2 separate regions of the Homo sapiens genome follow, and region 2 is reported to be linked to region 1. Evidence: microRNA targets listed by miRTarBase, many of them from high-throughput screens and not tested one by one. Region 1 holds a microRNA gene; the other region holds the end of a gene's coding sequence.
Evidence for each region. The annotated mature microRNA hsa-miR-330-3p reads GCAAAGCACACGGCCUGCAGAGA and lies in region 1 at 2,091-2,113, opposite strand. An mRNA with a match to its seed (bases 2 to 7 or 8) in the 3' UTR can be bound and repressed. Matches are read on the target gene's strand: a 7mer-m8 pairs with bases 2 to 8, a 7mer-A1 pairs with bases 2 to 7 and ends in A, and an 8mer does both.

Region 1 (3,275 bases):
CCTGGGTGTCTCAAAAACAAGAAAATATCTGAATGATTGTCAATATACATATATCCTGACCCCATGAAACTGCTCTGACCTGCAGTCACTGCAAAGGGGAGCAATCTGAGGTCCTCACTTTTGCAGTCTCAGCCACCTCTCATCAGATGCTTATCAAGCCCTACTGGCAGGACATTTGGGACAGATTCCAGGGGATATTTCCAGCTGCCTCGAGAAGGCTCTGGGCACCCAGAAGGCCAGGCCATTTCACCAACCACCCTGGCTCCTCCAAAGAGGAAACCAAGGCCCAGAGAGAAGCAGACAAGGACCGGGTTCCTGGGGTGTGGACTCCAAGCTCAATAGGATTTTAGGAAAAAGTTTGGGTCCCAGAATCAGGATTGTTGTCTCCTACCTATAACCTCAGTTTCCTTATCTGGAAAGGAGGTATAATAATTTCCAAACTGTAGGCCTCAGAGCTCTTGGAGGCCACTAGTTGTAAAAAAATAAATTCATACCTGGAATAACTTACAACAGTGTCTGTCAGATAGTAAGTGCTTGAGTTATTATTTTGGATTTTTTTTTTTTTTTTTTTTTTTTTGAGAAAGGAGTCTCGCTCTGTCGCCCAGGCTGGAGTGCAATAGCACAATCATGGCTCACTGCAACCTCGACCTCCCAGGCTCAAGTGATGCTCCCACCTCAGCCTCCAGAGTAGCTGGGAACCACAGGAGCATGCCACCATGGCTGGCTATTTTTTTTTTCTTTTTCTTTTCTTTTTTTTTTTTTTTTTTTTTTTTTTGAGACGGAGTTTCACTCTTGTGGCCCAGGCCGGAAAGCAGTGGGGCAATCTCGGCTCACTGCAGCCTCTGCCTCCTGGGTTCAAGCGATTCTCCTGTCTCAGTCTCCCGAGTAGCTAGGTTTACAGGCACATGCCACCACACTCGGCTAATTTTTGTATTTTTAGTAGAGACAGGATTTCATCATATTGGTCAGGCTGGTCTCAAACTCCTGACCTCAGGTGATCTGCCCACCTCGGCCTCCCAAAGTGCTCAGATTACAGGCATGAGCCACCGCGCCCGGCCTGCTATTTTATTTCCTGTAAAGACGAGGTCTTGCTATGTTGCTCAGGCTGGTTTCAAACTCCTGGGTTCAAGTGATCCACCCACCTCGGCCTCCCAATGTGCTGAGTTAGTGTTTTATCAGTCCCTGTGCATGGGGCACATACTATGAGCTCAGTACCTTTACACATTATTTCACAGGTCTATGGACCTGAGATCATAAAATTCATTTTTCAGAGTCAAGACGACTTTTCCAGGGTCACACGGCCAGGTACGGGCTGGACTGGGGTTTGAACCCATCTCTGTCAGACTCCAGAGCCCGGGCTTCCAGCCATTCCCAACTCTTTTTGCTCAAATGCACCAATCCCACTCTGGCCACATAGCCCTTGAACGTGCTGTGCTTGTTTTGTGTGTTGCCCAGGCAGGTCTCAAACTCTTGGCCTCAAACGATCCTCCCAAAGTGCTGAGATTACAGGCCTGAGCTGCCTTGACCGCCTTTCTATTTCCTCCTGGGGGGATGGGAGCACCAAGGAGATTCCAGCAAAAGGATACACCCACTCCAGCTTGAGCCGGCAAGAAGGCAGCTCCGAGCGTGTGTCCAGGCTGTAGGTGGGTGCCAGCTCGTCTGGGATCATCATGGGCACAGGGCGGCCCCTCAGGAACATTTTCACGGAGCCATCCTCTGCCAGGACACCCCCAGAGGTCAGGCACTGACACCAGCCCCATCCCTATTCCCTCTCCTCTTCCAGCTTTATTTATTTATTTTTTTAAAGGCAGGGAAACTGAGGCCAGAGAGGCAAAGACCCAGTAGCCAAGACTCCTGACCTCTGGCTCCAGCCTGTCACCCCAACAAGCAAGCTTCCACCGAGCCCTTCCCCATCTCCCCACTCACCCACACTGAAGATAACTTCTTTGGTTTTGCTGTCAGGAAAGGACAAAGAAAAAAAAAGGGTCTTAGTATTCAGTTCAGAAAAGGGGAGAAACCATTCCTCCACCCCCACCGCTCCCCGGAGGTCTCCGATGAAAACGGGGCCGAGTAAGGGGCAGAGCGCTGCCTCTCTGCAGGCCGTGTGCTTTGCTCGGTTGATCTTGCAGAGCCTAAGACACAGGCCCAGAGAGGCAGTGATCGCCAAAGATCACACAGCACGAAGTGGCAGGGACGCGATCCTGGAAGAAGGGAGTCACCAAGGACCCTTCCCTCCTAATCAGCAAGGTGCTCCCCAGCGCCCCCCACCCGCAGTTCCCCCAGCACACCAAACGTCAAGCAGAGGGAGAAACGGGGAGAGTTTAAGGGAAGGGGCGTGTCCCCACGCCGGTCTGGGTCCCAGGGGTTGGGTGAAACCTGAGATCTAAGCCCCGGGAGCGCGGAGAGGAGATGGGGGGTGGTCTGCGAAAGGGTCTCACCCAGCTCCAAAGCTACTCATGGCGGCGGGTGGCGGAGCTTCGGGGCCGGGGGTGGAGCCGGGACCGGCTCTGCCGCTTCCGGCCCTGGGAGGCGCCCGGGCCGCCGCGCCCCTGCCCCGCCCTCCACAGCCACCCCTGGAGCCGGAGGGTCCCACCGGGTCACACATCCCGGGCTGTGGACTCCCGATCCCAGGTTCTTTCGGGGTGGGTGGGGGAGAGTGGTTGAGAACATGGACTCGGGAGCGCGCCTGCTTGAGTTAAAACCCCAGTTCTGCTAATTCCTAGCAGTGTACACAGGTCGTCCAACCTCTGCCTCGGTTTCCTCATTTAAAAAATGGGGATAATAAGAGTACCCGGCCGGGCGCGGTGGCTCATGCCTGTAATCCCAGCACTTTGGGAGGCCGAGGCGGGCAGATCACCTGAGGTCAGGAGTTCAAGACCAGCCTGGCCAACGTGGTGAAACCCCGTCTCTACTAAAAATACAAAACTTAGCCTGGCGTGGTGGCTGGCGCCTGTAATCCCAGCTACTTGGGAGGCTGAGGCAGGAAAATCATTCGAACTCGGGAGGCAGAGGTTACAGTGAGCTGAGATTGTGTCATTGCACTCCAGCCTGGGCAACGAGAACAAGACTCCGTCTCAAAATAAATAAATAAATAAGAGTACTCACACCTCCCGGGGGTAGTTGCGAGGGTGAAATTGGTTAATTATTGGGAAGTGCCTGGAGTATACACAACGCTGTATTTGTGTTTGCTATGTTTGAGCAGAGTTGAAATGTGCAGCTTTTGACCTTGGTCTTGCCCTTGCGTGGCCTCCTAGCGCTGACCACGCCCACTGCAC
Region 2 (3,000 bases), not on the chromosome of region 1:
TCCTAGGACCTCCAAGGGTCTTTAGGTGTCAGGAACCTCAGGTTGGGAACTCCCGATGGGGAAGTAATGAACAGAGGGTGCCTAGGCTGGGAAGACTTTCTGAGGAGGTGAGGCCCGCACTGAGACCTGAATGACAAGAAGCAGCAAGCCAGGAACAGGTCTGGGAGAAGCGTGTTCCAGGAAGAGGTGATAGCAAGTGCCAAGGTCCTGAGGCAGGACCAAGCTAGGCTTCCTCCTGCGCCAAGGCTGCCCTCCTCTGAAGTCAGGGGGGCACAAGGCTGGGGAGGACACAGTGCCCCAGAGTAGGCTGGGCAAAGCAGCCTTGCTCAAGGGCAAGGCTGGGGGAAAGCAGACTGCTATAAAAGCCCGTCCTATCTCCACCCGCAGGGCATCCGAGGAGGCTTTCGTGAAGGAATCCAAGGAGGAGACCCCAGGCACAGAGTGGGAGAAGGTGGCCCAGCTATGTGACTTCAACCCCAAGAGCAGCAAGCAGTGCAAAGATGTGTCCCGCCTGCGCTCGGTGCTCATGTCCCTGAAGCAGACGCCACTGTCCCGCTAGGTGCCTGCTAGGTGCATGGCCACAGAGCATGGGCTGGGCCTGGGCACAGGAGGAGCAGCTGCTTTGGTCGGGGTGGAGACTCGCAGCAGCTGCTACCCACAGCCTATTCCACTCCTCCCCATCTCCAGGCGCTGGGAGGGGGGCCCTCACCCCATCACGCCTCGCTCCCTCCTGGCCCTCTGGTCCAGCCCCTCACGCCTCCTCTCAGTCTACTCAATTGTGACTGTCCCTCCTGATGTATTTTTTTTCTTGGCTTAAAGGGTGTGTTGTTGACTCTTTTTACACTTATTTATTATCATTCTCACTTCTCTGGAAGCCACAACTGGTGTCAGGGCTCGGTTTGTGCTTAGAACTTTCCCAGCTTCATGACCTTGAGAGAAGGGAGAATGTTCCCCCATTTCCCAGCCAAGTGGGAGCCCCAAGCTCTCCATGTCTGTTGCCTCCACCTCCAGGAGGAAAGACAGCCTCTCGCAGAATGCTTTTGTAACCTCGATCCTTTAACAAGTCTGTGAGGTAAATTCTGTTATTCTCACCATATAACCAAGGACACCAAGGTTCCCAGAGGGGAAGTGGCTTGTAGTGGGAGGGAAAAGCGAGACCAGAGGTTCCTGGTGGTAGCTTCCTCCTAAGCCTGGGTAAGAGCCCTGAAGACCCATGAGACTCCCCTCCTTAGGGTTGGCTGGGACCTTCTGGATGTGGAGGGTCCACTGCCCTGTGTATTTCGCTTCCTCCTTCAACTGGGCTCATCTTGGATTTTGGATAAACAACCAGTGATCACACCTTCTTCCCCTTCAGCAGAGTTTGCAAACAGGACGTTCATGACCTGCATGATGTTTAAAAAGATTTGAGTAATTGCCAGTAAATATTAGCTTCCTAGGGCTTCTGTAAGAAGGTACATGAACTAGCTGGCTTAGAACAGAAATTTATTGTCTCATAGTTCTTGAGGCCAGAAATCTGAAATCAAGCTGTGGCAGAGCCATGCTCCCTCTGAAGGAGCTGGGGAAGGGTCTGTTCCACCTGCTTCTGGCTTCTGGTAGCCTCAGGCATCCCTTAGCTGGCAGACGCATCACCCCAATCCTGCCCCCATCAGGTGGCTGTTTGCACATTGCCTTCTAGGTATGTCTGTCTTTGTGGCCAAATCTTCGTTTTCTGTTTTTTTTCTCAAACAGGGTCTCGCTTTATCACTGAGGCTGGAGTGCAGTGGTGCAATCTCAGCTCACTGCAGCCTCAACTTCCTTGGGTCAGGCAATCCTTCCACCTCAGCCTCTCAGGTAGCTGGGACTACAGGCACGTGCCACCACATTTGGCTAATCTTTGTATTTTTAGTAGAGACGGGGCTTTGCCATGTCACCCAGGCTGGGCAAACTCCTGGGCTCAAGCAATTTATCCACTTTGGCCTCCCAAAGTGCTGGGATTACAGGGATGAACCATAGCACCCAGCCTAAGGTCAAATTCTAAGGCACTAGAAGGACTTCAACATTTTTGGAGGGGGACACCATGACACCAACACTTACAAACAGTGGTCATCACTCCATGTCCTTGTCTTGTATCTGGATGCCAAGGGTCACCACAGTGCACTGCTCTACATCTATCATCTCTGCCTCAAAGCTGAGAGAACATGGTGGAGGCAAGCAACTTAGCTGGCCCTAGTACAGCCCTCCACTGAGATCTAGACTGTTGGGGGGTTCAAGAAGGGGTGTGTCTTCACTCCCTTTTTCCTTCTGCCAGCTTGAAGCTGGTGTTGAAAACAGTACAATCACTCGGGAAGAGCGCAGGTCCTCAAATCCAACATTTGAGGAGCGCTGACCACAGACCAGGAATACTTGTTTGAAACTACATGAAGGAGGAACTAACAGGTCACCTCTCTTCTAGAGTGTGCTCAGGTCCTCAGCCTCCTCTTCCAGAACCCTCAAACACTATGTACACAAATCTCTGGAGAGCTTCGGGACTGTGTTCTTCCCACTGTACCAGACTGCTTCTCTGAGCCTGTTTCCTCTTCTATACTGTGTCAAGAACCAGATGGTCTAGGCTGGGCGTGGTGGCTCACGTCTGTAATCCCAGCACTTTGGGAGGCCGAGGTTGGGGGATTACCTGAGGTCAGGAGTTCAAGACCAGCCTGGCCAACATGGTGAAACCATGTTGTTTTAGTATTCTACTAAAAATACGAAATACAAAAATTAGCCGGGCGTGGTGGCACACACCTGTAATCCCAGCTACTCGGGAGGCTGAGGCAGGAAAATTGCTTGAGCCCGGGAGGCGGAGGTTGCAGTGAGCCGAGATTCTGCCACTGCACTCCAGCCTGGCTGACACAGTGAGACTCGTCTCAAAAAAAGAACTAGATGGTCTAGATCAGTGGAGCCCCATAGACTCTAGGGAGGTGGGAGCAGGGTGAGGAGGTTATGCGGAGTGGAGGGCAGAACCCTCTGCCTCTGACCCGACTA

Region 2: the mRNA of CLTB is a reported target of hsa-miR-330-3p. Seed matches in the 3' UTR shown: 7mer-m8 at 619-625.

The regions. Positions count from the first base shown.
Region 1 is chr19:45,636,919-45,640,193 of GRCh38, forward strand. MIR330 (microRNA 330) reads right to left here and starts at 2,169; the gene lies at 2,076-2,169. It overlaps EML2 (EMAP like 2), which reads right to left and starts at 2,479. Exons shown (of 19, transcript NM_012155.4): 1 at 2,439-2,479; 2 at 1,927-1,955; 3 at 1,587-1,716. The coding sequence starts at 2,458. RefSeq lists enhancers at 1,305-2,156, 1,393-1,687, 2,157-3,008 and silencers at 1,393-1,687, 2,384-2,663, 2,684-2,773.
Region 2 is chr5:176,390,333-176,393,332 of GRCh38, reverse strand. CLTB (clathrin light chain B) reads left to right here. Exons shown (of 6, transcript NM_007097.5): 6 at 388-832. The coding sequence ends at 559. It also overlaps a transcript of ARL10 not described here. Among named protein-coding and RNA genes, the nearest start is that of HIGD2A, 3.1 kb to the right of the region's middle.